Homo sapiens: one gene and its partners. The protein of the gene in region 1 purifies or fractionates together with the protein of each later gene. This does not show direct contact. Each region holds a gene or a part of one and is shown in the gene's direction. Other genes may lie near its edges.

Region 1 (4,125 bases):
CACAGTCCCAGCCCCAGCCTCATCTGGGCTCCAAGCAGGTGGAGGCTGAGTCCTGAAAATTCCTTCAGAGCTCCAGTCTTTTCAGTGTCCCACCGTTCGCTCCCCTCGTCTGGCCTCTCAGTCCCGTGCAGTCATTCCGCAGATGGGAAATGGAAGCTCAGAAGCCATTTGTCTGGCCTCATGCCTCCTCTCCACGGGAAGAAGCTCCTAGTTCTTTCATTTCACCCCCTTTGCACCCACATCCTTGTTCCTCCCTTCAATCAACCGTCTCTGACACTTCTTTGAGCAAGGCCCTGGCCTGGACACTGGGGGCAGAGGAGGGATGGATCATTCCTTCCAGCTTGTTGGGGGAGACAGAAAGGAAGATAGATGCTCACAAGGGTGCCTGGTTGGTGTGGGGACAAAAGAGGGAGTGTTCTGATGTTTTGGGGCCAGGAGTGCTGGCTGTGAGAGCTGACAAGTGAAATGTGTTCCAGGCCTAAGGGCCAACATACAGACTCCAAGGGGTACCCCGGGGTGCGCAGCTAGATAGCCAGGCCATGGCACATTCCATGGAGCTGGAAGGAGTAGAATTGCCTCCTCCAGGGCACAGCATGGGGTGAAAGAGTCCATGCTATGGACTGAGAGTAGAGTTTGGAACCAGAGAAAACTGGGTCCGCATCCCTTCCACTGCCTCCTAGCTATGCAGCCCTGAGTGGTTCATTGGGCTTCTCTGAGCCTCAGTTTCCCCCTCCATAAAATGAAGGGTCTTGAGGACTGGACCACACAGTGAGTGTGCAGGGCCCTGTTCATGTCTGTGGTGAGGAGTAGGCTCAGGGGGCTTGAAGCGGGTGGGTGGCCCCTCCTGGATCTTCTGGGAGGGCAGCAGAGTGGGGGAAGGCCCAGGCTGGAGGCTGGGGCAGGGGGCCTGGAGCTGATCATGGCCTCCCCTCACGGCCCCCCTAGGCGTGATGTTATCTACTCAGTGAGGGTGGGGAGTCCGTGGATTGACCAGATGACGCAGACCGCCTCCGATGTCCCGGTGCTCCAGGTCATCATGCATAGCAGGTACCGGGCCCAGCGGTTCTGGTCCTGGGTGGGCCAGGCCAACGACATCGGCCTCCTCAAGCTCAAGCAGGAACTCAAGTACAGCAATTACGTGCGGCCCATCTGCCTGCCTGGCACGGACTATGTGTTGAAGGACCATTCCCGCTGCACTGTGACGGGCTGGGGACTTTCCAAGGCTGACGGTGAGTCAAAGCCTCTGCAGACCAGGGCGGGTGCTGTGAGAAAGGACGTGGGTGCAGGCCAGGGTGCCACCACAGATGGATGTTTCTGAGGCACCTTCCCCAGGGAGCCTGCCGCTCCCGGGACCTTCCTGCCAGGCTCTCATCTCTGAGGTCTCCTTCCCCTTGAGGATCTCGTGGGGAACACCTCACTGCTGCTCCAGCCTCAGGGGACCCTGATTGCCTTTGAATCCTGAGTCAGGCCAGGGCATGTAAACAGAACTTCCTTGAAGGCAGAGAGGCACAGAGTAATACCTCACAGTCCACACCCACTGCCCAGGCATCGGCAGCTTGCAGCAGAGCACCTGAGGTCGGGGGAGCAGTCTTCTGTGTTGTAAAATGCTGCCCAGAAGGCCCACATGGCTGGCTAGGGGCCGTCTGCAGCTGGAGCTCATGGTTTCCCCTCCCCTCAGTGGGCCTCAACTCCTGGTCGTCCCAATTCAGGAGCAAGGCCCAGAGAGCAGGTGTGTTCTCTCAGGAACATCCAGGGGACCCTAGAACTGTCTACTTCCTTCAGGGGGTCCCCAGCCCATAAGAGAGATGCCCTTCCCTGTGGCCTCAAGGAACCAACTTACTCTCAAAACAGCTCAAGGGGGCTTCAGCCCATGTGGGAGGACCTGGGAGTGACTTTGTCATCCCTGCTGTGGCCTGTCTCCTGTCTCCCAGGAGCTTAGGCCAGGGACAGGGACACACTACTCAGGGAGGCAGAAGGAAGAAGCAGTGCCTGGCCTCCATGGAGGGGTCTGGGAAGGCTCAGCAGGGAAGAGGCCTGTGGGAGAAGGGATGCTTGAAGAGAAGGAAGGCTTGGCAGGCCCTCAGGAGGGAAGGAGTGGCAAAAGCCAAGAGGCCGAGTGTGGTGGAGGTGGTGTCAAGGGCCCCAGTGGCCTGGGCACTGCAGGAAGCGAGAGCAGGCCCGGCAAGGCTGGGTTGGGGGTACTCTGCTCCGGGGGCTCTGTGTTGAGGGCCCTAGATGGGTATGGGCTAGAACGAGGGCAGAGGTGTGTGGCTAAAGCAGAAAAGGTGGGACGTGGGGAACAGTGGAGAGAGGACGAGTGAGGCTGGCGGTAGTGGGCAGCGGTGAGTGGCTGCGCCTAAATGGGGCCCTGTCCCACAGGCATGTGGCCTCAGTTCCGGACCATTCAGGAGAAGGAAGTCATCATCCTGAACAACAAAGAGTGTGACAATTTCTACCACAACTTCACCAAAATCCCCACTCTGGTTCAGATCATCAAGTCCCAGATGATGTGTGCGGAGGACACCCACAGGGAGAAGTTCTGCTATGTGAGCGGCCTCTCCTCGCTCACTCCCCTTCAGGGGCACCTGGGGGAGAGGCATCTGGGGAGGGAGAGCGGAACGGTGGAGGTTGGGTAGGGGAAGGGAAGGGGGTGGGCAGGACTCTGGGATATGGGGATGGAGGATGTCGGGGGAGACTGGGAGGAAACAGATGGGGGCTGGGAATGGGGATGGCTGTTGGAGGTGAGAGGAGTGGGGGGTCCGTGGGGAGATGGAGGGTGGGTGTTAAGAGGTGGGGGATGAAACCCTTTGAGGAAGAGCTCCTGGGTCTGGAGCACTTCTCACCTATGTTGGCACTGGGGGACTGTGGAGGTGTGGTGTGAGGACATCCCGCCTGTCCTGGAGCTGGGTCGTCTCTGGCCTTGCCTGGCCTCCCTGACCCTTACTCCCCCAACCCTTCCCACAGGAGCTAACTGGAGAGCCCTTGGTCTGCTCCATGGAGGGCACGTGGTACCTGGTGGGATTGGTGAGCTGGGGTGCAGGCTGCCAGAAGAGCGAGGCCCCACCCATCTACCTACAGGTCTCCTCCTACCAACACTGGATCTGGGACTGCCTCAACGGGCAGGCCCTGGCCCTGCCAGCCCCATCCAGGACCCTGCTCCTGGCACTCCCACTGCCCCTCAGCCTCCTTGCTGCCCTCTGACTCTGTGTGCCCTCCCTCACTTGTGGGCCCCCCTTGCCTCCGTGCCCAGGTTGCTGTGGGTGCAGCTGTCACAGCCCTGAGAGTCAGGGTGGAGATGAGGTGCTCAATTAAACATTACTGTTTTCCATGCCTCCTTCTTCCCCGGCCTCAGAGGCCCCACGTTTCCTGGGCCTGCTCTGTTGGGAGTCCACAGGTGAACCAGATGAGGGTGAAGTGGGGAACTCCAGGCAGTTTACACTGAAAATTGCAGAGCCTCCAGGATCTCCCCCATTCAAAGGTTCGGGGTGGCTCCCGCAGAAGGTGGAGGGGGTGTGAAGGGGTGATATTAGGGTCAGATGATCGAGGGGCCTGGAACATACCGCCCAGGCTGAAGCTGGGGCTGCCAGGACCCAGCTGGGGTGCAGCTGTCTGGGCTGGAAAGTGGGTGCTCTTTCTGTGATAACTGTGGGAGTCGGGCTTTCCTTGACTTTGGCTGATTTCTGGCAAGAGGCTAGAACACAGCATTTCATTGCCCCAAAGAGCCATAGTGAACTTTGACCCTCTGTCTCTGTCTCCTGTCTGGAGACAGTGACAGACACCCACTGGAGTCAGATGTTATTCCAACCACCAGCAGCCAGGCCTGCCCATAAAAGGCTAGTGGTGGCCCCATGTCAGGGGAAGGGCAGGTGGAGCCTAGGCCTGGACTTCCCCAGTCTTCAGCAACTGCTGCTCTGTGTGACCCTGAGTGGCCCCTACCCCTCTGGACTTCTGCTGCCTGGCCACATGGGAAAATTCTGCATAAATAGAATGGCCTTTTTCACCCCTATGTATGAGAAGCCCATGGGTTGGACCCCAAGGGCAGAGGTCGGTCAACTGCCTCCATCTGGTGTCAGAGTCCTCAGCTTCCATGGCGGGGCCTTTGGCCATGGCTCTGCCCCTCACTGC
Region 2 (3,519 bases), on another chromosome or scaffold:
AAACAAAATGTTCGAAGGCAGCAATACTAGTGATGCTGTTTCAACTTGAAACAACAACTATAGCCAAAGAAGATGGAGACTCTTAGGCAAGAATGTTTTTCACCATTATTCTCTCACAATGATTTTATGTCTTTCTTTCCTATAATTTAAATAAATAATTTCAGCTCTACCTCTAAATCATAATTTTAAAATAAATTTTATCTTATTTTTGGTGATATTGAAAAAGATATTCTAGAAATCACCACCATTGAGCATTCTTGTAAAAATAGATTACTCCTTAGCATCAAAAGCAGTCTCTTGAAAGTTTAATATTATATGTTTCAGTGTAACATAATCTTACTGGGAGTGTGTTGAATACACCAGAACTTTTTGAATTGTGTGCTGAATGATGTACATAGTCTAGAAGAAAAAAGCCCAAGTCTTGTGCACATTTAAATCGTGTACATAAGTATTTCCGTATTTCAGTAAAGTAGATAAAGCACTCGTTAAATAGCATTGTTTACATCGACCAAATATTGCCTGTTTCCTTTAATTCAAATGCATTAGGTTCCCGCCTCCCTCTCCTTCCCCGCCATGTTGCTGTTTTAAGGCTTCATATGTATTAACATTTCTCTGATCAAAATTGTGGCTGTTTTCCTTATGAACCATAATATAATCATTTGTGTGATGTACATTGTGCCATTTTTGATGACTAAATGTCTATATTTCTGCCATTCCTGTAAGAGAGGGAGTTTTTTACTGATAGTAGCAAATGTTCACTTCAGTCAAACTTGGGTGTTCAGTGGTAAACCATATAGTATTTAGACTGGTAAAAATAGTTTGCACACAGGAATAGCCTCTGATTTTTAGCTCTCTTGTAATCCAAGTATCATTGTTCATGGAATTCTCTAGGTCATTTTTATTGTGTTGTTCTAACAAGACAGATTATTGCTACAACAATAGTTACAAGATATTTCTAAAATATCCTTTGATTTTTACTCTAAGTATGGTAGAGTAAGAGGCTAAACAAGAAGCTGTTTCCTTGAAGACATTGCTTTCAGTCACCATACATGTCTAAATAATTTAGCTTATCATTCATTCTATGTAGGAATGAGATAAGAAAGGATATGATGGCAGGAAAAGAAATGCTATTCATTTTTTATACTTTAGTTTTATTTTCTTAGGATCTATATCCTATATATATATATTTTTTAAAGCACTAATTTATTGCAGTCTTTATTTTAGAAAAATGTGAAGCATTTTTTTCTCCCCTAAAATGAATATATTTAGATGACAAGTCTTTAGTGCTGGTAGAGGAACTAATTGATTTTGTACTATAGTAGGAAAGTGTTTATATGTTTCACCAGAAATAAAATATGTAGGGTTTGTATGTAATCTTCTGTGTTTATCCTATGTTGATTTACCTTAAATTTGCAACATACATATCCACATAAATATTCATGACTTTCTTATATTTCATTAAAATGTTTTATGGCTTCTTAAAATCATCACTGTGCTTCTAAATATTTTTACGTAAAATCATTGTATAATGCTATACTGTGATATACATGAAAGTTTATCTTGAACAGTGCTCTTTAACAATATTAAATTTAAATTTATCTTGGTTTTGCTATGCTTATGGGTAATTCATAGAAAACAGAAAAAATACTGTTCCCAAAAGGCAGTTATATATTTCAGTTTAATATCACCTATAAGTATGAGAAAGGTTTCCATGTCTCCTACCCCTCACTGCACTTAGGAAAATTCTTATTTATGAATAAAGTAAGATAAGTAAATCTAATTGCCTAGTCGTTTTTTTAACACATATACATGCAATGTATCTGGATGAATAGAAGGCTGAATTGAAGCTTTCTTTATATTTAAGAGGTAAAAAGAAATATTAATACTTTTAAAATATACTAACAACCAAAAAGTGTTCAGAATTTTGCTATAATAATAATTTGTATTAAAATAGTACCTAGAAAAATTCAGTCTATGGAATAGGTAAAATTTTAAAATTTTAATTTGCTCTCAGAGTTCTGTCTGATAAAATAATTGAACTATAATTGGCATGATGAATATTCCCAGGTTTTACTTCAGTATATAAATTTAACTCTCAGCCACATGGGCTTTCCAGACTTTTCAATACATATGATGTTGCAGGAATTGCAATATTTGCAAACATGTGCCACAACAGTGTTCTTGGTGATGTTTCTAAAACAGTTTTTATTCTATTAATGTTAAATTTTCTAACATAAACATTTAATTGATTAATGTAAAATTTTAGGAAGGAACATCTTTAATTTTCAATATGAGATGGTTGCAACCTTTAAAGTAGTACATATTTGATTTTTTTTAAAAGGCAATATTTTTTTTTCTAGGAAAACTATTCATTATGGTTATTTAACTGCATATGTTTTTTAAATTTTTCCCTCTTGGAACAACATGTACTGGGGCCTATCAAAGGGTGGAGGGTGGGAGGAGGGAGAGGAACAGGAAAAATAACTAATGGGTACTAGGCTTAATACCTGGGTGATGAAATAATCTGTATAATAAATCCCCATGACACAAAAGTTTACCTGTGTAACAAACCTGCATATGTACCCCTAAACTTAAATTCTTCCCTCTTTTTGTCTTGGGCACAAGTTTTTGGGATATGGAAAAGTTTATTGTATCCCTTTTGAATTTTCTTCTAAGATGAACTTTTTAAATAAAAGATATTACTGCTTTTATATTTAATCTGTCAACATTTATTGGGACATTTTATGTAGTAGGCAGTATATAAAAAGCACTGGAGATGATAAGATATTTCAGATATTGTTACTGGCCACAGGAGGTTTCAGAGCTATGATTGAGTGATTGATAGAAACATACAAAGGGAGTCATGGGAAATATGGGGAGTTGTTCACTCAGCCTGGGGGCAGAGAAGGGGAGTGGTCAGGAAACCTGAGTTGGACTGACAGACAGGCAATCCAATAAGTAAACATGCAGGGAAGTGGGAGTCTCAATAAGGCAATAGAATTTAGTCCATATGGCTTGAACAAAGTGTATACATGGGAAAGTGTAAACATGGAAATGTAATCTAAGGCCTTGTGCGCTTAAGGAGGAACAAGAAGGCTGTGAGAAACCTAGGAAAAACTTTTTGGCAAAGTTGTAACAGTTAGTTAGACTTGGGTTTTGGAAGATACCCAGCAGTATGGAAAATGGGGCTTATGATAAGGTGATCTATGTTAAAATCTAAAAGTTTTGGTTTGTATTAAAATATGCTTTTTAAATGTACCATAATGAAAAAGAGGTAATTTTAGCTTCCCTTTCCTATCAATCAGTTAAAATGACAAATGCTAAAACTAAATCGAAGCTGCTTTGCTTTCAGAAGAGCAGAATGAACAACAGTCTTGTGACACTTAAGTGGTAATCCAATATGTTAGTTTAGTTTAGCAAAATCTGCACATTTCATCTAATGATAGGAACTTTAACAAAGCAGTTTTCTAAGTTGTAAATTTGGGACACATTGATAACCACTTAAAACTGTATGTAAAT
Region 3 (4,372 bases), on another chromosome or scaffold:
ACCAGTCACGTCAGGGTTCTTAGGTATCTGCCATTAACTGGAGATGTCCTAGCGTTCACCATGCATTTCAGGGCCACGAGACTAATGACAGCATCACTAACAGCTAACACTGACTGTATATTTTCTCTGTGTCCCCACTGAACCCAGTGTTTCATATCTATAATTTCACTTAATTCTCCCAGCCTTAGAAATCTACATATTATTATCATCTCCTTTTACAAATGAAGAAACTGAGACTTAGACAGAGTAAGAAACTTGCCCAAGGGTATATAGCTGGTAACTGCTGGAGCTGAGATTTGATCAACAGTCTAACATTATGCTATACCAACTTCTGCTAATTGAGTAGTTACCATGGGCTGGGTGCTTTACATACATATCTCATTGAATCCTCACAGTAACCCTGCAAAGTAGGCACTGCAAAGTGGTCTGCAGTAGCCCTAAAAAGTAGGTTGTCCTCCCTCTGTGTCTCTGAGGTAACTTGTCCAAGATGGCACAGCTAGTAAGTGGTAAAACTGGGATACCAACCCAGGTCTGTCAGAGTCCCGCGTCCTGTAAGACCTTGCCTCCCAAACCCTGGTCCATGCCAGCATCGTTGGCATCCTCTGATAACTTGTTAGAAGTAAAGACTCTGAAGTCCTTCCCCAGACCCCCTCAGTTGGCACCTGGCATTTTAATAAGCTCCTGAAGTTATATGCACAGTGAAGCTGGAGAAACTGCCTTTCACTGTGCTCTGACAGCCCAGGTGTTCAACCAATAAAGAAGCAGGTCTCAGAATCCACAGACTCACTCCTCCCCCTCCATAGTGCCCCTCCCCCACTCCAAAGTGCCCCTCCCCATCCTGGTCACTCCTCCCGATACAAGTCAATCCTCCCCCTCCAAGTTGCTCCTCTCCCTCCTCATCCCTCCTCCCCTCTGTGTCCTTCCTCCCTCTCCATGTTGCTCCTCCCCTCCATGTCCTTCTCCCTCTCCATGTTGCTCCTCCCTGTCCAAGTAGTTCTTCCTACTCCAAGTAGTTCCTTCCCTCCAAGTCACTCCTCCCCCTTCAAGTCGCTCCTCCCCATCCAAGTTGCTCCTCAACCTCCAAGTCATTCTTCCCTCTCCAAGTCGCTCCCCACCCTCCATGCTGTTCCTCCAAGTTGCTCCTGTCCCTCCATGTCGCTCCTCCCCCTCCATGTCCCTCCTCTCCCTCCATGATGCTCCTCCCCTCCATGTCGCTCTTCCCCCTCCATGTTGCTCCTCCCCCTCCAAGTTTCTCCTCTCCCTCCTCGTCGCTCCTTTCGCTCGATGCCAGCAGTGCCTGTGCTCCTTAGGCCTGCTGCTCACAGTCCCTGTTTACTTCATTGTCTTCTTCCTCTGCTTGAACAATGCAGTAAGGGTGGGAATGAGTGATGGGGGTCAGGAGGGTACTGGTTTTATCCCCCTGCCAGAATGAGTATCCTCGCACTGCGGGAACAGGAGGAGGGTTGGAGGGAGAGGATATGGTGCCAGCTGGGAAGGCAGGCCAGGTGCCTGGGCATTGCTCCTTTCCCTTGGGGATGGGGGATGGACGGGCCTGTGGGGAGATGTCCCCTGATGCTTTGGTTTCTCCTTTCTTGCAGCCTCATCTTCATGGTGCCAGTGGCGTGTGGGCTTTTCCCACAGAAATGGTATCTGCTGTTCATTCCTTACTTGGTTTAATTGACCATGCTGCCAGCGCGCTCCCTGATCTGCCTGCTGTCCAGAAGGAGACAGGGAAGGGGCAGGAAGGGCAGCACCTGTCTGAGGACAAGTGTCCATCAGCCTAAAGGCTGGGCCTCTTAACCCTGGTGAATTCTGACAAACGAAAACAGATCTGCGAGGGGCAGGAGAAGCCAGGGACAGGAATAAGGTTGCTCCCTCCCAGTGGAGCAAGCACTGCCTTGAAGAGAAGGTGGGGGAGCAACAACAGACTTTCTCTTCCTGCCAGCTGGGTTATTAGGAAGCTCTCCTCTGGCTGGATCTGGTTTTTAACTTTTTTTTTTTTCTTTTTTTTGAGATGGAGTTTCACTCTTGTTGTCTAGGCTGGAGTGCAGTGGCACGATCTCGGCTCACCACAGCCTCCGCCTCCCAGTTCAAGTGATTCTCCTGCCTCAGCCTCCAGAGTAGCTGGGATTACAGGTGCCTGCCACCATGCCCAGCTCATTTTTTTTTTTTTTTTTGAGATGGAGTTTCACTCCGTCGCCAGGCTGGGGTGCAGAGGTGCAGTCTCGGCTCACTGCAACCTCCGACTCCCTGAACGATTCTCCTGCCTCAGCCTCACGAGTAGCTGGGATTATAGGCACGTGCCACCACGCACAGCTAATTTTTGTATTTTTAGTAGAGACGGGGTTTCACCATGTTGGCCAGGATGGTCTCAATCTCCTCACCTTGTGATCCGCCCGCCTCAGCCTCCCAAAGTGCTGGCACTACAGGCGTGAGCCACCGCGCCTGGCCTCATTTTGTATTTTTAGTAGAGATGGGGTTTCACCATGTTGGCCATGGTTGGTCTTGAAATCCTGACCTCAGGTGATCTGCCCGCCTCAGCCTCCCAAAGTATTGGGATTACAGGCGTGAGCCACCGTTCCCCGTTGGTCGTTAACATTAAATAAGGGGGCTGGTCGTGGTGGCTCACGCCTGTAACCCCAGCACTTTGGGAGGCCGAGGTGGGCAGATCACCTGAGGTCGAGAGTTCAAGACCAGCCTGACCAACATGGAGAAACCCCGTCTCTACTAAAAATACAAAATTATCTGGGTGTGGTGGTGCATGCCTGTAATCCCAGCTACTTGGGAAGCTGAAGCAGGAGAATTGCTTGAACCTGGGAAGTGGAGGTTGCGGTGAGCCGAGATTGCACCACTGCACTCCAGCCTGGGCAACAAGAGTGAAACTCCATCTCAATAAATAAGTAAATAAATAAATAAATAAATAAAGGGACAGGCAGAGGGCTGACAACCGAAACCCCTCTATTTCCTTTGTGTGTCCAAGAAGGAGGAAGCAGGGAGAAGGGATGATGGAAAAGGGAAGGGATACATCAGACTAGGGGGTGGAGGGTGACTGACCCCAGGAGACAAGTGTAGCTTGAATATATACCCAGACAATTCCAGTCTCCCCTTCCTCAGTACTCTAGTTCAATACTACTTCCATGGTCATCTGCTAGACATCTCTTGTGTCCCAAGCACTGTGTTTGTAATCTTGTGGAGAAGATGGAAGTTGAAACGAAGAACCATAGCCCAAGGAGAATGAAGTCAGGCCTGCGTAATGGTAAAGCAACATTGTGGTATACAGAGGCCAATAATAATCCTAGATGGAAAAATCAGGAGGGCTTCTTGGAGGTGATATTCATCTGAGGGTAACTTACTGCTTGTTCCTGGTGGCATGCTCATAATCCACTTCTCTCTTTTCAGTGAATTGCCAGTTTCCTATCTGGAACCGAAGCTCCAAGACACTATCAAGGCCAAGTATGGAGAACTTGAGCCTTATGTCTACTTCAATAAGGGTCTCTAAATGCCCCACTTCAGCAAGGACCAGTCTATTCCCATATTCACCAGCTCCTCCTTAGCTACGTGCACACTTGTGTCCTCCTTCCCCTTTGCCAACAAGGCCTGAAGGCCAGGGTAGATTGGGGGGTGGGACAATGAATGCCTCATACTTACACCCTGGTACTGGTTGATTGGACCTCAGGGGAAAAAAGTGAAAAAGGGTAGCAAAGGCCAATGTCTTCTAGCTGCTTCCTCAACCCCTGTCCCCTGGAGACCAGAAGCTGAGGCCCTCTCAGGGAGGAGACATCCAAGCAAATCATTTGGAAAAGTTAGGAAACCTTTAGGATTCTGGTTCCAGCCAGGGTTGAGGAAAAGACCTTGGATCAAAAGGAAGCTTCTATACCTCTTTCTTCTTCGCTTCCTCCTCTCCCAAGCAATGGAAACTTTTACCCATGTAATTCTAGCTGAACTCAGGAAAAAGAAGGGGGAAAGGACTCTGTCCCCTTGGGGCTCATCACCCTTCCACATCCTCCTCCTCGTTGCCCCCTGGTCAGGCAGCTTCTTTTTTTTTTTTTTCAAGATGGAGTCTTGCTCTGTCGCCCAGGCTGGAATGCAGTGGCGCGATCTCGGCTCACTGCAAACTCTGCCTCCTGGATTCAAGCGATTCTCCTGCCTCAGCCTCTCAAGTAGCTGGGATTACAGGGCACCTGCCACCACGCCTGGCTAATTTTTGTATTTTAGTGGAGACGGGGTTTCACCATGCTGGCCAGACTGGTCTCGAACTCCTGACCTCAGGTGATCCGCCCGCCTCAGCCTCTGAAATTGCTGGGATTACAGGCATGAGCCACCACACCCAGCCCGGACAGCTTCTTTGGGAGTGCTGCTAACCTTGAAATTA
Region 4 (4,372 bases), on another chromosome or scaffold:
GATCTTGTGTCCCAGGCTGGAGCGCAATGGTGTGATCTCGGCTCACTGCAACCTCTGCCTCCCGGGTTCAAGCGATTCTCCTCAGCCTCCTGATTAGCTGGGACTACAGGCGCTTGCCACCACGCTCGGCTAATTTTTGTATTTTTAGTAGAGACAGAGTTTCACCATGTTGGCCAGGCTGGTCTCGGTCTCCTGACCTCATGATCCGCCCGCTTCGGCCTCACAAAGTGCTGGGATTACAGGCGTAAGCCACTGCGCCTGGCCGTTTGTTTTTTACTATTCACTGTTTTCATTTGAGAGATTCAGGAGCATATAAGGAAAATATGAAATACTTCAGCTAAAATGCTAACGAAGGAAGTGAAATAGATGAGTTAACTTCGTGTGTGTGTGTTTGCCAAGTATTCCCGGGACATTATTAAATTGTTCTTGTTCTCAGACTTAGGATGATTTCTGTCCTGGTTTGTGTGTTTTCCTGATTTTAAGTAAATCACCCAGATCATTTATTCAGAATTAAATGCTAACTTTGACAAGCTGCTTTATTTTTCCATACTAAATTATAAAAGTTGTTTAGAGTCTTTTGAAAGAGTAAGAATTTGATATGAGTTTCTCAAATGACTGGAATAGGAGAAACGTGCATCCAGATTGTGTTTCTCATTTTGAAAATACTCATACCAAGGTTCATTTTTAGGATTTTAGCACTGATTTTGAAAATGCTGTTTTAGTCTCGGAACCATGGTGCTTTTTACCCCATAAGGATCAGGGATGAGGCTGACTCGTGTGGAAGCTGGAGATTCTGTGTTCCTCATAGGCAGATTCCAGAACAGCTGCCTTTAAGGACCGTTTTAAAGTGGGGGCAGTGAGTTGATCATGTTTGAGGCTGCATTCTCTTGTGGCTGTATCTGCTGTTGTCATTACAGAAGGGTGTCAACATGGAATGTGAGTTTCTCCTATTCTGAATTATCATTGCAGCTCGATCCACGGTATGCTCAAGTTGTCACTTTATTTTTGTCCTAAACACTGACCTACATAACCTCGGAAGAACAAGCGGTGGTTTTAGATGAAGGGCTTCCTATTCAAATTTTCCTGTAGGCCAATGGTTATTAGTGCTGTATCTACTGTAGTGCTGTGTCTATTAGTAGTGTGTATTACTGTAGCTAGTTATCAGTAGTGTGTATCTACTGTAGCTAGAGGAGTCTTTCTGAGATCCACGACCCCGGGCCTTCCCCCTCTAGTCTGTCTCCTTCCCTCCTTCCCCTGTTGCTTAGATTGTTGTTAGCTGTTATGTAGGTTGTAAACTTTTCATCCTACCAAACCCCATACTGGATCTTATGGTGTCCATACATTTCAGATATGGGACAGTTGATATTTTTGGAGTAATATAGTGGGTAAGATGTGGAGTACTCCAAGAAGCTTTTGCTTCACATATGCAGCTCCCTCTGTAGCTGTTTGGCCTGTGCTCTTTTGAGTGCCAGTCTCTGAGTAATCATTACTCTCATTTATTGACCACCCACTATGTGCAAGGCACTGGCACACAATTCAGAGCAGCAGCTTGTAGCTATTAAAAGTTTTTGTTCTTGGCTGGGCGTGGTGGCTCACGCCTGTAATCCTAGGACTTTGGGAGGCCAAGGCGGGCGGATCTTGAGGGCAGGAGATCCAGACCATCCTGGCTAACACGGTGAAACCCCATCTCTATTAAAAATACAAAAAAATTAGCCGGGCATGGTGGCGGGCGGCTGTAGTCCCAGCTACTTGGGAGGCTGAGGCAGGAGAATGGCATGAACCCGAGAGGTGGAGCTTGCAGCGAGCCGAGACTGTGCACTGCACTCCAACCTGGGTGACAGAGGGAGACTCCGTCTCAAAAAATCAAACAAACAAACAAAAAAAAAGTTTTTGTTCTTGGCCGGTCTTAGTGGCTCATGCCTGTAATTCCAGCACTTTAGGAGGCCAAGGTGGGTGGATCACTTGAGCACAGGAGTTCAAAACCAGCTTGGGCAGCATGGTGAAACCCTGTCTCTACCAAAAATACAAAAGTTAGCCAGCCGTGGTGGTGCGCTGTGGTCCCAGCTACTCAGAAGGCTGAGTGGGGAGGATTACTGGAGCCCAGGAAGTCGAGGTTGCAGCGAGCCGTGATCACACCATTGCACTTCAGCTTGGGTGACAGAGTGAGACTGTCTCAAAAACAAAAGACAAACAAAAGAGAGAAAAGTTTCTATTCTCAAGAAAGCTGCAATGTAGTTGAAATGATAGGAAAATGTACAAAAGATGGCCGAGCACGGTGGCTTACACCTGTAATTCCAGCACTTTGGGAGGCCGAGGTAGGTGGATCACCTGAGTCAGGAGTTCAAGACCAGCTTGGCCAATATGGTGAAACCCATCTCTACTAAAATTACAAAAAAGTTACCCGGGCGTGGTGGCAGGCACCTGTAGTCCCAGCCACTAGGGAGGCTGAGGCAGGAGAATTGCTTGAACCCAGGAGGCAGAGGTTGCAGTGAGCCGAGATCGCACCACTGCACTCCAGCCTGGGCGACAAGAATGAAACTCTTGTCTCAAAAAAATAAAAATAAAAAATAAATATTAAACTTTGCTGATGGACATAGAAGATGACCTGCATGTATGTTCATACTACGGTCCTGGAGAGCACCCAGGAAGGCTGGTGAGGAAGCAAGATGACATCTCTCCAAATTGATTTCTTAATTCAGAATAGTATCAAAGCTAAAGACAATAAACTGAGTGAAATAATCTGTAATATACCTAAGTGACAAAAGGTTAATATCTATAATAAAGTACTCCTACAAATAAAAACCCAGCTGAAAAATGGGCAAAGTTGGCAATTCACTGAAGAATAACGAAAGACCAATGAAGCATGAAAGGATGCTTAGTCTTGCTAGGAGTTAGGAATTTGAATATGAAAATAGCAGTGCGGCCAGGTGTGGTGGCAGCGCTTTGGGAGGTCAAAGCTAAAGGATCACTTGAGGCCAGGAGCTTGAGACCAGCCTGGGCAACATAGTGAAACCCTGTCTCTACAAAAAAAATGAAAAATTAGCTGGGCGTGGTGGCGTGCACCTGTGTCTTAGCTACTCAGGTGGCTAAGGAGGGAGAATCGCTTAAGCCCCAGGCTGCAGCGAGCTGTGATCATGCCATTATACCCTGGGTTGGGCAACTGAGTGAGGTTCTGTCTCAAAAAAAAAACCGGGGGGCGGGCAAGCAAAGAAAAAAGAACAGCAGTACATACCACTGGGTAGGAAAATGTTGGCAAGGATGTGAAGAAAGGGTCTTTGCATTTCGTGTTAGTAGATACGTAAATTGGCATAGCCTTTCTAGGAGAAATTTGACAATATCAAATTTTAAAATGTTCATGTCTTATTTTTGGTTTATGTGTTTTAATTTGCATTATTTGGGGTTACGGATTAAAATTTTTTAATTGATACATTATGATTGGATCTATTTATGGGGTACAGTTTGATGTTTCAATACATGTGTATGTTGTATAGTCTAATCTGGGTAGTTATTTCCGTCACCTCATGTGTTTATCATTTCTTCATTCGAAAACTTCTAACTATTTTGTAATATATAATACCTCATTGGGAAGATTGCTTGAGCCTAGGAGGTCAAGGCTGGAAGCTATGATTGCACCAGTCTACTCCAGCCTGGGCTACAGAGAGAGACCCCATCTCGAAAACAAAACAGAAAACAAAAGACATTTAACCTGGCCCAGTAGGATAAGACAAGAATGATGTTGTTTAATGACTGATTTCCATTTAACAAGTTGTACTCCTTAATATAGATGTTTGGTGTATTTGGTAAGGGGATATCAGTTTCAGAAACATTTACAAAAGTGAGTATTCTGGGAGATCTTATTACCTGGTAACCTTAGCATGCTTTGATCTCAAAGTGGAGAGAAGCCGACTAGGAGCTGCTCTGGTTTAATAGCAGGTATTCTACTCCCAACCCCTCCAGGAGATTCTTGCCCCACCCCCTTCTGTCTTCAGCTAGGATTCCCATTTTCCTATGAAGACAGGACAGTTTTGTTGTTTTAAAGGAAGAAGCTGCTACTTCCTAATCAGGATCTCAGGCTGGGGAAGAACAGTGTGGGACCACGTTAGCATCCGCAGATTTCCAGCAAGGCTGTCCTGCGTGGACGCTACTCCATGGACCGGCTTCAAACCACACACTGCCCTGTGCGCACCTGGGGCTCTCTCACCCTCTAGCTAGTAGTTAATTAGGGCAGAGCCCTATTTACAGTCACAGAGACACAGTATGACCTGGACATTCTTCAGAAGTGTTCTCCCAAAATACCACAAAATGAGAATTTGACCCCATGACATGAAGATAAAATGAATCCCATTTTCTTTTGTCCATTTATTCATTCAGC
Region 5 (4,372 bases), on another chromosome or scaffold:
ATATATACTCATAGCTCAGAAATGCTGAGTTAATAGCTCATGAATCTCAAGAGAGGTGCAAACCTGTTGGTCATTGGCAAAGGGGCAGATTCGGAACAGTAGGAGCCAGGGTGCTTTTTGGCTTTCTTTTCTGAGCCATGGGCATTCTGTCTCTTGCTCACCCCCACAGGACATGATGAGCTACATTGGGCCCAAGAGGACAGCAGTGGTGCGGGGGATAATGCACCGGGAGGCCTTTAACATCATTGGCCGCCGCATAGTCCAGGTGGCCCAGGCCATGTCTTTGACTGAGGATGTGCTTGCTGCTGCTCTGGCTGACCACCTTCCAGAGGACAAGTGGAGCGCTGAGAAGAGGCGGCCTCTCAAGTCCAGCTTGGGTAGGGCACCAGGCTCTGCCACATGAAGGGAGAGGAAATGAATTACATGGGGCAGGAGGGAAATCTGCATGCCAACTTCTTTCTCCTTTCTTCTCTAGTCTCAATTTTTTTCTTATTTATTTTATGTTATTATTATTATTATTATTTTTTTTAGTTATTTATTTTGAGACGGAGTCTCACTCTGTTGCCTGGGCTGAGTGCAGTGGCACTATCTCGGCTCACTGCAAGCTCCGCCTCCCGGGTTCACGCCATTCTCCTGCCTCAGCCTCCCAAGTAGCTGGGACCACAGGTGCCCGCCACCACTCCTGGCTAATTTTTTTGTATTTTTAGTAGAGACGGGGTTTCACTGTGTTAGCCAGGATGGTCTCGATCTCCTGACCTCGTGATCTGCCCGCCTCGGCTTCCCAAAGTGCTGGGATTACAAGTGTGAGCCACCACACCTGGCCTATTTATTTTATTTTATTTTTTGAGACAGAGTCTTGCTCTGTTGCCCAGACTGGAGTGCAGTGGCGTGATCTTGGCTCACCACAACCTCTGCTTCCCACGTTCAAGTGATTCTCACTCCTCAGTTTCCTGAGTAGGATTACAGGTGCATGCCACCATGTCTGGCTAATTCTTGTATTTTTATTTTTATTTTATTTTTTTTTGAGACGGAGCCTCCTGTCGTCCAGGCTGGAGTGCAGTGACGTGATCTTGTCTCACTGCAACCTCCGCATCCCAGGTTCAAGCGATTCCCCTGCCCCAGCCTCCTGAATAGTTGGGATTACAGGCGCCCACCACCATGCCTAGCTAATTTTTGTATTTTTAGTAGAGACGGGGTTTCACCATGTTGACCAGGCTGGTCTTGAAATCCCAACCTCAAATGATCTGCCTGCCTCGGCCTCCCAAAGTGCTGGGATTACAGCGTGAGCCACCACACCCGGCCGATATTTGTATTTTCAGTAGAGATGGGGTTTCTCCATGATGGCCAGGCTGGTCTTGAAGTGCTGGCCTCAAGTGATCCGTCTGCCTCAGTCTCCCAAAGTGCTGGGATTACAGACATGAGCCACAGCGCCCGGCAGCTTTTTCTTACTCAGTGTTCCTCATCCCAGTTTTGTCCTCCTTTTGGTTCCATGATGGAAAGCAGCCCCATTCCAGAGGAGAAACAAGTTCAGCTCAGCTGGGAGTACAGGCTGCCCCTCTTCTTTGATCCACAAGAGCCTCTGACTTCCCTGACTCCTGTTTCTGTAGGCTATGAGATCACCTTCAGTTTACTCAACCCAGACCCCAAGTCCCATGATGTCTACTGGGACATTGAGGGGGCTGTCCGGCGCTATGTGCAACCTTTCCTGAATGCCCTCGGTGCCGCTGGCAACTTCTCTGTGGACTCTCAGGTGAGACCGGGAGCAAGTTGAGGAGTCCTTTTCAATGTCTATACATATTTACAAGTGCAGTCTGTTCCTCCATCTCTTAGAGCTTGCTGATTTGCTAGGAATTTCCTGTGTGTATATGTATGTGAGTGTCATAAGGGTGGGTACTGGGGGTGCGTGTGTGCCCTTGTCTGTGTCCATCCATCCATTGAGGGCAGATTCTGGTGTCTTTACTTCCTTGGCATCCTATTGAGAGAGTTTGTCAGTGCTTGTTAACAAACCACCTTCCTATAGCTCCCTCTAGACCTGTACTCACCAATTGTGCTTAGATGTTAATGCCATGACCCATCTTTTTTTTTTTTTTTTTTTTTTTGAGACAGAGTCTTGTTCTATTACCAGGCTGGAGTGCAGTGGTGTGATCCCAGCTCACTGCAACCTCCGCCTCCCAGGTTCAAGCGATTCTCCTGACTCAGCCTCCTGAGTAGCTGGGATTACAGGTGCGTGCCACCATGCCCAGCTGATTTTTGTATTTTAGTAGAGACGGGTTTTCACCACATTGGCCAGGATGGTCTTGATCTTTGCCCAGCTGATTTTTGTATTTTAGTAGAGATGGGGTTTCACCACGTTGGCCAGGATGGTCTCGATCTTTTGACCTCGTGATCCACCTGCCTTGGCCTCCCAAAGTGCTGGGATTACAGGTGTGAGTGATGGAGCCCAGCAGAGCCATTCTTAAGGAATTTAGTTTTTAGAAAAATGCTTCCTGAAATTTGTTATTGTAGTAACAATAAAGATGTGAAGGGCCAGGTGCGGCGGCTCACGCCTGTAATCCCAGCACTTTGGGAGGCTGAGGCAGGCGGATCACGAGGTTAGGAGATCAAGACCATCCTGGCCAACATGGTGAAACCCCATCTCTACAAAGATAAAAATTAGCTGGGCATGGTGGCGCGTACCTTTAGTCCCAGCTACTCGGGAGGCTGAGGCAGGAGAATTGCTTGAACCCGGGAGGTGGAGTTTGCAGTGAGCCAAGATTGTGCCACTGCACTCCAGCCTGGCAACAGAGTGAGACTCCATCTCAAAAAAAAAAGATGTGAAGAATGTAGCTTTCTGTATCACGCTGTCTCCTTGTAGGGAAAACACGTGGGAGAAATTTTTATCAGGTCTTCCTAGTGGGAGTAATTGCTTCTGAATAACTGGCTTGATTTGATCTTGTAGACACTGAATTATGCTGTTCTTTGTTTCTCTCTTTGTGTAGACTGTTAGGAAACCTGGTAAAATACGTGATTTTTAAAGCACGTATTTAGTTTATTCAGTTTACCCTTGGCTTTGCTATTTTCTTCTGCAATTATTTTCTCTCAGCCCTGATTTTGTCTCTTATATGTTGCCTTGTCCTGATTGTGTCTTTTTTAAGGCACCTCAAATCTTTTTTGGGAGAAAGTAGAATATAAATCTAAACAAAGTAACCACTCCCTGTTTGCTCTACAGATTCTTTACTATGCAATGTTGGGGGTGAATCCCCGCTTTGACTCAGCTTCCTCCAGCTACTATTTGGACATGCACAGCCTCCCCCATGTCATCAACCCAGTGGAGTCCCGGCTGGGTGAGCACCTAAGGATGAGGGTCTTTCTTTTCTGCCAGGCTAGGGAGGGACCCTGACGGCTCAGCTGGGTAGGGGACAGGAGTTGGAGGTGGATTATATACAGTGATGGTTCCCAGGTTGGGTTGGTCCGAGGAGACTGTGGAGATTGAGGCTCCTTTTTTTCTTTTTTTGAGACAAGGCCTTGCTCTGTTGCCCAGTCTAAAGTGCAGTGGCACAGTCATAGCTCACTGCAGCCTCCAACTCCTGGACTCAAGTGGTCTTCCCACCTCAGCCTCTCGAGTAGCTAGAACTATAGGTATGTGCCACTACACTTGGCTAATTTTCAAAATTTTTTTTAGAGACAGGATCTCATTATGTTGCCCATGCTGGTCTTGAACTCCCCTCAAGTGATCTTCCCACCCCAGCCCCCTAAAATGCTGGGATTATAGGCGTGAGCCACTATGCCTGAGCCCTAGGTTCCTTTTTCATGATGCTCTGTTGATATCTCCATCTTCACACCTATCATATCCAAAAGCATTTATTAAACGTGATTCCTAGCACTTTTTACAAATGAATGACTAGGCTGGGTCTATCTCCCTAAAAGCCATCTAGGAGAGAGGCTGTCACACACATAGGAAAGACAACAGCAAAAGTACTTGAGGGCAGAATTTGAATTGACAGTTCTGCTGATTGAGGTTGAATAACCTTGAAGCTAGTATTAGAGTTTTTCATTTTTCGGGTGGAAACTAGGAAGAGGAGGTGTGACTAAGAACTGTAACACAGGCAAACCAAAGTGAGTATATCTAATTGTGGAATCTCAGATACCAGAGGCAGGCTAGTGTGGCCCAAGGATTGTGAGGGGGTGGCATGTGAGGCCTTAGAAAATTCCTCCGTTCATTTATTCATTCAGCAAACATTGACTGAGGGACTACCTTATGACAGTGCTGAGTAGAGAAAAGAAGGGCATTTCAGGCAAAGGGAACTGTGAGCTTAGATGCAGACAAGTGAGAGAGCTTAGGCATTCAGGAAGCTCAGAGTAGTTTAGTGTGGCTGAAATGTGAGTGAGTGAC
Region 6 (4,842 bases), on another chromosome or scaffold:
GGCATTAGGCCAACTCCCCCCTCCCGCCCTGCGCACGCGGAATTCTCTATTATTATTATTAAAGAATCCCCCAGAACTTGTTTACGTTAAACCCTGTAAACTTCCTGCCAGGGCCTTTGCCATCTCTCGGGAAATCGGAACCTGCGCTTTGAAAACGGGGCCGCGGGGCCAAATAGGCGGGTTTTCAGTGTGTGTTGGGGGTGGGGGAGGGCAACTGAACTACGTGTGAGTTCAGATCCGAGCGTGGCGTGTGTACGCGTGAGTGGGAGTGAGTGCGAACTTAAGCTCCTGTGGGCCTTAAGCTTCCGTGTCAACGAGTGCATTAGTGGGTGCGCACATGCCTGAGCGCCCTCTGCATATGAGTGTGCACACACGCATGGGTGTGTTTACACGTCTGTTTGCGTAATTTACCGGGTTTGCATGTGCATCAAGACATGTATGTGTGTGCTAATGTGTGGACAAGAGCGCGAGGGTGTGCGCGCACGGGTGAGTGACTGAGCACGCCGCTTATTCAGGGGCCTGTGCGGTCTGGGTCGCCTCTGGGCCAGCGGGTTCTCACTCGCCCCCGTCAGGCCCGCGGCGCCCGAGACAAAGCGGCCGCGACTCGTGCTGCGCTTTCGTTTTCCGCCTGCGCTCTGCCCCGGCGGCTGCCCGCCCGCTCGCAAGCTGCTGGGCGAGTCCGAAAAATCCCGGGAGCGGCGCAGTTCTTCCCGGGGCGGGGAGAGTGGGTAGGCGGTCCCTCGCGGGAACTTAGCCGGCCGGCCGCGAGGACCGGAGTCGAGCCGGCTGTGCCTGCGATGGTCACGACCGGGAGGCCGCCGCACTTGCGATTTGCTACAGGGCTGTGCGCGTCGGGGAAGGCCCCGGCCCAGGGAGCGTTTCCCGCCGCGCCGCCCGGGCGGGGAAGGCGGGGTCCAGCGCGCACCGGGGCTGAACCGCGGGCGGAGGGCGCATTAACACTTGCTCGCCAGGTTGGTGGAGGCGGGGCGGATTCTGCTGGCGGCCGCGGGGCGGCGAGAGTGGGGGCTCTTTAAGCGCCCACCAACGCGGGGGCCCGAGGGGGGCAGGGACGGAGGGAGGGAACTCCGGGAGGGTCTTAGGCCGACCCGCGAGACGCAGCCGAGCGGAGATGGAGTGAAGGCTGCCTCGCCCGGAATCTCGGAGCCGAGCGCCGCGGGCGGCGGGGACTCAGGGCTGCTCCCGGCTGGGGCGCACGGCCGTAAGACCTGGAGGTGGTGCCTCCCCCCAAAAAATACCGGCGGGGGTAGCTTCCTCACGGCCTTCGCCCGGGCTGCCCTCGGCCTCAGCTCGGCTCCTTTCCTTGTGGGAGGGCGAGAAAGAAAGAGGGAGGAGAGAGGTGGGGGAGGCGGGAGTTGGAGAGAGAGGGGCTCTGAGCCAACCGCCGGCGGATCCAGCAGCTCCTCGGGGAGGGCGGGCGGGAGCGCGGGGGCGGGCGCGCCGCGGCTCGCTCGGGAGAAGTGGCCGCCGATGACGGCAGAGGTGCAGCCAGCCCCGCGCGCGCAGCCCCCTCCCCTTCGCCCTCCTCCCCCCCGTCGTCCTCTTCCTCCTCCTCCTCCTCCTCCTCCCGGCCCGTCCGCGGCGCAGAGCAGCGGCGGCAGCGGCGGCGGCGGCAGCAGCCACCCGATGTCTTCGGCGCCCGAGAAGCAGCAGCCACCGCACGGCGGCGGCGGCGGCGGCGGCGGGGGAGGCGGCGCGGCCATGGACCCCGCGTCGTCCGGCCCGTCCAAGGCCAAGAAGACCAACGCCGGCATCCGGCGCCCGGAGAAGCCGCCCTATTCCTACATCGCGCTCATCGTCATGGCCATCCAGAGTTCACCCACCAAGCGCCTGACGCTGAGCGAGATCTACCAGTTCCTGCAGAGCCGCTTCCCCTTCTTCCGGGGCTCCTACCAGGGCTGGAAGAACTCCGTGCGCCACAACCTCTCGCTCAACGAGTGCTTCATCAAGCTACCCAAGGGCCTTGGGCGGCCCGGCAAGGGCCACTACTGGACCATCGACCCGGCCAGCGAGTTCATGTTCGAGGAGGGCTCCTTTCGGCGGCGGCCGCGCGGCTTCCGAAGGAAATGCCAGGCGCTCAAGCCCATGTACAGCATGATGAACGGGCTCGGCTTCAACCACCTCCCGGACACCTACGGCTTCCAGGGCTCGGCCGGCGGCCTCTCGTGCCCGCCCAACAGCCTGGCGCTGGAGGGCGGCCTGGGCATGATGAACGGCCACTTGCCGGGCAACGTGGACGGCATGGCCCTGCCCAGCCACTCGGTGCCCCACCTGCCTTCCAACGGCGGCCACTCGTACATGGGCGGCTGCGGCGGCGCGGCGGCCGGCGAGTACCCGCACCACGACAGCTCGGTGCCCGCCTCCCCGCTGCTGCCCACCGGCGCCGGTGGGGTCATGGAGCCGCACGCCGTCTACTCGGGCTCGGCGGCGGCCTGGCCGCCCTCGGCGTCCGCGGCGCTCAACAGCGGCGCCTCTTATATCAAGCAGCAGCCCCTGTCCCCCTGTAACCCCGCGGCCAACCCCCTGTCCGGCAGCCTCTCCACGCACTCCCTGGAGCAGCCGTATCTGCACCAGAACAGCCACAACGCCCCAGCCGAGCTGCAAGGTGAGTGGGGAGGCCGAGGGCGCCCTGGTCCCCGGGAAGTCGAGTCTGAGTGGCAGCGGGACCCAGCTGGGGCGAGCCCCTCCACTTCTGTGGTCGGAACCCCAAGGCTGAGGGGAGGCACCAGCTCCCCAAGGTGTCTCTTGGCCCCACCTCTCCCCCTTCGAAGAGTGACTACCGCTCTTGACCCTAGTTTGGGCCAATCTGTTTCTCTTTCTGTTCGAACTCCAGCTGCCAGCTGCTCCAGGCCTGACCAGGTAGGCTGGTCCTGAGCCAGATGTCCCAGACCCCAGTGCCCTAAGTCCTTTTGTGTCCCTTAAGTCCCCTCACAGCTTGGAAAGATCCTGGGATGGACCCAAGGCTCCCAGCGCTGGCCAGATGGCTGTCCCTCCCTGGTGGTGGCCCTCAGGCTGCCTGGAGGGCTGCCTCTGCCTGGGGCTGGGCGGAACGGAAGGTGTTAGGCCCAAAGCCGCTGGGCCAGCGCTCAGAGGCTCAGCCCCGGCCTTTCAGGGGACCAGACCTGGCAGACCCACAGCTGAGTCCAGGGGCATTTTGTGGTGACTGAGGCAGGAGGGTGCCGTGGCCAGGCCCCGGAGGGTCAGAGCTGCAGACCGGGCCATGGGGGCTCCTTGTTTTTTAGGATCCAAGTTTTCAGGTCCCCACACCCCCAACACCCCTGATACCCCAATACCCCGAACATGCAGAAGCATCTGCCAAGGGAGATGCAGCAGCCTCGCCTCCTGATTCTGCCCCAGGCCCCCCGCAGCCTGCAGGCCCAGCTCTGGAAAAAGCTGGAGTGAGCTTGCCAGGGCCAGTCCAGGGTCAGCTGTCAGCAGCCCCAGGAGGCAGGAGCCAGGCCTGGAGGCCTTAGGCAGCCTCTCTGCGGGGGACTCCCCGGCTCCGGGGCCTGTTCTCTGGAGAAGCTTCTTCTCACCCCTGCTGCTGGCCCGGCGCTGGCCCTGCACTGGCCTCTCCTTCAACCCCGCCGGCAGTCGTAGCCTCTGAGGTTGGGGGTGGTGGTGGCTGCCCTGGCGGTGACGGCCATGGGCGTTAGGGGCCCTCCACTTGGTCTCCCTCACCACTTCCCCTATGGCTCTGGAAGCCCTGGGCCCCTGCACGGTGTCCGAGGCTGGACAGGCACGCAGCAGGCAGGCAGGCAGGCAGGCAGGCAGGCCGTGGCAAGTGTTCTGGAGTCTTTTCCTTGGGTGCGCAGCTGGAAGGCCGGGACTCGGGGAGGAGAGCGGGGAGGCGGCCGTGCTCTGGAGCCAGGCTGACAGGCCCTGTGCGCCCCACGGGAGCACTGCTCCTCTGCCTGAACTCTGAGCCACCGTGGCTAACTCTTCTGCTCCCCCAACCCCTCCTGTCGCCTCGCCTTGCAGGCATCCCGCGGTATCACTCGCAGTCGCCCAGCATGTGTGACCGAAAGGAGTTTGTCTTCTCTTTCAACGCCATGGCGTCCTCTTCCATGCACTCGGCCGGCGGGGGCTCCTACTACCACCAGCAGGTCACCTACCAAGACATCAAGCCTTGCGTGATGTGAGGCTGCCGCCGCAGGCCCTCCTGGTGCAGGCAGGCGGGTCACAGGGACCCTGGACCGGCACAAGAAACTGCTTTCTTCTCGAGGTATAACCGTCGGCAGAAGAAAAGGGTTCCACCTCTCCCCAACCGGAGTTTTTGGCAAGGAGTCCCCAATGCAAAGACACAGCGCTGCGGTTGGCACCTCCTTCCTCACTCCTTCAAAATTGTTAAGAAATGTTAGTGGTGGGTCTGATCTGACTGCAGCCATCGGTAAATAAAAGTTTTTGATCCTGTTGAACCCGCCTGAGACGGTGCTGTGCAGGGGAAAGCCCCCGCACCCACACAGGAATTCTGCTGAGGTCCCCCCTCCTTCCGGCCAATGGCAGAAGTGGGGGAAAATTTTTAGAAGAAAAGCAAACATGTGAGACCAATCATTATCAAATACTTTTATTTTTTGGTTGAGTATTTATCTTTTTATTTTTTATTTTTTTTTTGAAAGAATGTCTTGGAATGCGCAAGTCTCCCTTTAGAGCCGTCTTTTGCAGGGAGCGGGAAGTGACAAGAGCTCAGATCTCCCTCCCGATCTCCCTCCCCACCTCCGAAGTCTCCTCCGTGGACCACAGGTGGATCTTTGTGCGAACAACTTGCATTTCGGAAGCCACTGTCCGTCTTTAAACAGAAAGTCAAAGGAGCCACGAAGCAAG
Region 7 (4,372 bases), on another chromosome or scaffold:
GAAACTAATTTTTGCTTTCTCTTTTTATTATTACAAAAGGAAAGCAATTTGCAATTAGTGTTGAGGAAGACAAAATTGAGGCAAAAAAAAAAAAAAGATAGCTTTTAAAATACCCGAATTAGTAGTAGAGAGAACATGAGGAGCAGCATACATTTTAGTTGATGAGCAGTTTTTGAGCATGATGAGAAGTAATAATCAGAAAAAGAAGCACCTAATAGCAACTCCCCTTCTTCCAGATGGTTCTCCATACTGTAGTAGAGACATTACTTGCTTCGAAATGGGCTGTGTTGCCGTAAAGTCAAATTATAACCTTTCTTGTGATTTCATGTAATTCACTGGAAATGTTTCTTTTCCACTTACTGAAGATTGCTTCTAGGTACCAGGCAGTGAAGTTAGAGCTGAGGCTATTTCAATACATTGTAATGGCTGCTTCTGCATTTTATTCTCCCAAATTGGTTAAGACATTATCCTCTGACTTTTAAAGGCAAGTTTCTTTTCTGTGATGCAATGCAGGCAGTGAAGTGTGGCTAGGTGTCTGAGAATATGATTTTCCTGTTTTTGAATGACCCATAATTTTTAAATGACTTTATTCTGACTTTATTTCACAAATAATTCAAATGCTATGGTGGATTTGGCTCTACAAGTTGGTTCTTTTGCATGTCTTCAAAGAGGGATTTACTTGACAGTGTAAATGAGCTATCTAGCTAGAAAACCTGCTAATTTCTTTTTGGTTCAGTTTGTATCTTTAAAATTAGATGTCGTGTTTGATTTGTAGGCTGGCAGTCTATGGCAGTCAATAGTGCAGTATGCTGCCATGAGTAATTTTCTCAAAGAAAAATTTTTGCTTTTACAGGGCACCAAGGGGGAAAAAAAACTTGATTGACTTTTAATCACTTTAAGTATGGCTATTTTTAGCTCATGTTATTTCTTCTAACAAACTTCACAGAACAGGTTTTCTCTTTTGTGTAATAATATATAGAATCACAGTTAAAAAAAAAACAAGGTTGATGAATTGTATTTCTGTAGTTGTTTAAAATCTTTACAATTATTTTTATCCCATCTCTTATTTTATTTTTTATTGTTTGTTTGTTTGTTTGTTTGTTTATTTATTTATTTATTTATTTTCAGAGACAAGCTCTCACTATATTGCCCAGGCTGGACTCGAGCTCCTGGGCTCAAGCTGTTCTGCCACCTCAGCCTCCCAAGTATCTGGGATGGCAGGTACTCACCACTGCCATCTCTTTATTTCTTATAGGCATTATCTTTGTACTTGTGCTCAATCCGAAAGATAAATATGACATTCTCTGTCTTTCAGTAAAATAATCCATTCTAAATCCAGATGAACGTTGGATTGCTTGCTGGTTTGTAATTTTTATGGAATACAATATTTGTTCACTTGATCTAAAAAATTAAGAGTTGGCCATTAATGGTCTACAAAAAACAGGTTTGTCAGATTATTTGTAGCACCCTGTTCCTCTTAAGCTATATTTACTTAAATACTTGCATTTGAGAAAATTTTTTACTATGTAATATATTCACATGGTTAAAAAATTTTAAAGGCACACATAGAGTAATCTTACTCCTCCCCGTATTTCTCTACCCTGATAAGATATCTGGATGTACCGTAGTTTGTTTAACCAATCCCCTTGTAAATGAGCACTCGAGTTACCTCCAGCTTTTCACTATTACAGACAATGCTGCAGTGAGTAGCCTTGTATTTCATTTCACATGTATTCAGTTATAGAAACATTCCTGGAAGTGGGAAGTTGAATTCAGGGTGCTAAGTTGGCATTCGTAGGTGCTGTAACATTTTGAACTTCTACATGAGCAGTGAGAGAATTATTTGCTTCTGAATAGCAGTGTTTGGGAAACTTTCTAAACCTCTATAGATAAGGGAAATAGAAGTAGAGTTTGTCCACTCAACTCGTGTTGGGACTGAGTCTGGGACTTGGTTTGTAATTTAAAATGTAGTGTTGTTTCCAACAGGCTATCCTGGAATTGCTATCTTAAAGTTAAGACATGCTGGTAAAATAATAAAAGTTGTTAGCTGACAAAGTGATATTAAAGGAGATCCTCCCCATTTTGTTAGTATCTGTAAATTCATGTATCTGTATTTTCTGAGTTTTGTGGTCACAGAAAGAAAGAATGAACAAATAGAGTAATTTTCTGTACTCACATTTCGGTAAAATGAAGGTGGGATATACAAGTTTACACTTACAGTCTGTGCAGCCCATATACGTTTTCTGGTTCTGGGGTTGTTTTTATATTCTCTGCATGGAGACTGGCAACATCAGCATCACATGAGTACCACCTGACTCTAGTGACCTAGTCTCTTTCAACCTGATTTTTAATTGTTTGGTCTTTTTTGTTTGTTTTTAACTGCTTCTTGCAGGGCTACCCCATAGGAGTGTGCCCAGAATAGCCTGTTTTGTCTTTTAGTTCTGCAACATCAGAAGACAAAGAGTAAATATTATATGTGCATGAGGGATGCTCTTAAAAAATGGTTCATTTTACTTTCAGTAAGAGGCCAGGTTTCTTGATGCACAACTTTTTTGTTTGTTTTACAGTGGAAGATAGATGATAAGCCTGTAAAAATTGACAAGTGGGATGGATCAGCTGTGAAAAACTCTTTGGATGATTCTGCCAAAAAGGTACTTTCTTGAGGAGGGGTTGGTTAGTATCTATACAGCTGATGGCCATCTCTCCTGGGAAATCTTTTCCTTTTGTAACTTGGAGTGACCTTAGTTTTCAGTGTTAGAAATTAAGTCAGAAAGCAGTTTCTAAAATTTCTCACAGAAAAAGTCAGAGGAAGTGTGTTGAAATATCACCAACATGGCACATGTATACATATGTAACAAACCTGCACGTTGTGCACATGTACCCTAAAACTTAAAGTATAATAATAATAAAATTAAAAAAAAAAGAAATATAGATGTTGGCTATCTCAAGAAAGCTGGTAATTTTTTGTTTTTGAGATTAATTAGCCTAGAGCACAGAAGGGTGAGAGAAGATAGGACATTCATTCATGATAAATCATCTCTCCATTTGTAAAAGTAAAACATTTTAGCTGTGGGAAAAGTTGAGGAGTTTAAAGTTTTTTATATGAGGGATTGATGAACTTTTTCTCTTGGTTCTTTATAGAAGGCTTGAGTTTTACTTGTTTGGTGTGGTAAAATCCCAACTGGAGGGAACTACTTGGTAATTCATATGATTCTTTTATCATGGAAATCAAGAATAAAAGCACATACTGGGGAGGAAGTATTCCTATTAGCTTGATTCCTTGTTTTTCTCACCAGGTACTTCTGGAAAAATACAAATATGTGGAGAATTTTGGTCTAATTGATGGTCGCCTCACCATCTGTACAATCTCCTGTTTCTTTGCCATAGTGGCTTTGATTTGGGATTATATGCACCCCTTTCCAGAGTCCAAACCCGTTTTGGCTTTGTGTGTCATATCATATCCTTTATTTATGCTCAGGTTGTTTTCTAGTGACTATTTTTTTAAATCTGCTGATATTTCTCCCTACAAAAAACAAAACGGACTTTCATATTAGGGCTTGCTAATGTTAGAATTCAACATTTTGAGCTGTGATGTTTATATAGTAAATATCTATCAGTTTATATAGTAACTGTCACTGATATTTTATGTTTTGTATGGTTATTTTATCGTAATTCATTTTTGTTATTAATGTAGAGGTTATTGTCCTAATATGAGCACTTAATAGCAAAACACATAGTAATAGTGAACCCAGCTCTTCTCATTTCTAGCCCAGAACTTTTCCCGTTAGACGTGGCTGCTTCAAGCCACTCATTCTAGGATATTAGGAAAGGATCTGATTTTGGAGACTCAGATCTGTATTAAGTTTACTTGAAGCTGAGGAGCTGAACTGGAAAGTACTGAGCATGAGATACAAGTGTGGCTTGTATTACAGTGGAATTAAGAACTTATTCTGGAGCTAGAGAATATGGGTTTGAAATCCAAGGTATCTGTGATCTTGTGCTAATGAAAATTTACTTATTTTTGAGATGATTTGAATACCACTCATTTATAAATATGGGTAGCATTCAGAATTATCATAAAGATTAAATGAGAGATTTTATATTGTATTTGATACATAATCATTTCCTTTCCCCTCTTTTTTATGATAAATGTAAGATCATGGTCGTTGCCTACCCAGCGTGATTTTTTTTCTCAAGAAGTTGAATATAAAGAACTTAATTATACTTCACTATTAAAATAGGTAATTTTGGTTGGTAGTTTACTTTTTTAAACAATGTTACCACTACCTAAATTTTGTTTTGTTTTCTTTTTTTTGAGACAGGGTCTTACCGTGTCACCCAGGCTGAAGTACAGTGGTGTGATCATGACTCA

The links.
Region 2: the proteins of PRSS50 (region 1) and SLC25A40 purify together in Homo sapiens (affinity purification with mass spectrometry; one large-scale study listed by BioGRID and IntAct). This does not show direct contact.
Region 3: the proteins of PRSS50 (region 1) and SFXN2 purify together in Homo sapiens (affinity purification with mass spectrometry; one large-scale study listed by BioGRID and IntAct). This does not show direct contact.
Region 4: the proteins of PRSS50 (region 1) and KDELR2 purify together in Homo sapiens (affinity purification with mass spectrometry; one large-scale study listed by BioGRID and IntAct). This does not show direct contact.
Region 5: the proteins of PRSS50 (region 1) and PIGS purify together in Homo sapiens (affinity purification with mass spectrometry; 3 studies listed by BioGRID and IntAct, with this or other methods). This does not show direct contact.
Region 6: the proteins of PRSS50 (region 1) and FOXF1 purify together in Homo sapiens (affinity purification with mass spectrometry; 2 studies listed by BioGRID and IntAct, with this or other methods). This does not show direct contact.
Region 7: the proteins of PRSS50 (region 1) and SPCS2 purify together in Homo sapiens (affinity purification with mass spectrometry; 2 studies listed by BioGRID and IntAct, with this or other methods). This does not show direct contact.

The regions. Positions count from the first base shown.
Region 1 is NC_000003.12:46,711,322-46,715,446, reverse strand, and holds the end of PRSS50 (probable threonine protease PRSS50 precursor), read left to right. Parts: intron 1-945; coding exon 946-1,229; intron 1,230-2,379; coding exon 2,380-2,546; intron 2,547-2,964; coding exon 2,965-3,201; 3' UTR 3,202-3,330; downstream 3,331-4,125. UniProt on the Homo sapiens protein: May be involved in proteolysis through its threonine endopeptidase activity.
Region 2 is NC_000007.14:87,832,760-87,836,278, reverse strand, and holds the end of SLC25A40 (mitochondrial glutathione transporter SLC25A40), read left to right. Parts: coding exon 1-30; 3' UTR 31-2,711; downstream 2,712-3,519. UniProt on the Homo sapiens protein: Probable mitochondrial transporter required for glutathione import into mitochondria. Glutathione, which plays key roles in oxidative metabolism, is produced exclusively in the cytosol and is imported in many organelles.
Region 3 is NC_000010.11:102,734,264-102,738,635, forward strand, and holds part of SFXN2 (sideroflexin-2), read left to right. Parts: intron 1-1,598; coding exon 1,599-1,646; intron 1,647-3,399; coding exon 3,400-3,499; 3' UTR 3,500-4,372. UniProt on the Homo sapiens protein: Mitochondrial amino-acid transporter that mediates transport of serine into mitochondria. Involved in mitochondrial iron homeostasis by regulating heme biosynthesis.
Region 4 is NC_000007.14:6,476,981-6,481,352, reverse strand, and holds part of KDELR2 (ER lumen protein-retaining receptor 2), read left to right. Parts: intron 1-4,372. UniProt on the Homo sapiens protein: Membrane receptor that binds the K-D-E-L sequence motif in the C-terminal part of endoplasmic reticulum resident proteins and maintains their localization in that compartment by participating to their vesicle-mediated recycling back from the Golgi.
Region 5 is NC_000017.11:28,557,427-28,561,798, reverse strand, and holds part of PIGS (GPI-anchor transamidase component PIGS), read left to right. Parts: intron 1-169; coding exon 170-377; intron 378-1,607; coding exon 1,608-1,750; intron 1,751-3,208; coding exon 3,209-3,323; intron 3,324-4,372. UniProt on the Homo sapiens protein: Component of the glycosylphosphatidylinositol-anchor (GPI-anchor) transamidase (GPI-T) complex that catalyzes the formation of the linkage between a proprotein and a GPI-anchor and participates in GPI anchored protein biosynthesis.
Region 6 is NC_000016.10:86,508,926-86,513,767, forward strand, and holds the start of FOXF1 (forkhead box protein F1), read left to right. Parts: upstream 1-1,601; 5' UTR 1,602-1,644; coding exon 1,645-2,623; intron 2,624-3,999; coding exon 4,000-4,160; 3' UTR 4,161-4,842. UniProt on the Homo sapiens protein: Probable transcription activator for a number of lung-specific genes.
Region 7 is NC_000011.10:74,962,467-74,966,838, forward strand, and holds part of SPCS2 (signal peptidase complex subunit 2), read left to right. Parts: intron 1-2,567; coding exon 2,568-2,651; intron 2,652-3,296; coding exon 3,297-3,457; intron 3,458-4,372. UniProt on the Homo sapiens protein: Component of the signal peptidase complex (SPC) which catalyzes the cleavage of N-terminal signal sequences from nascent proteins as they are translocated into the lumen of the endoplasmic reticulum.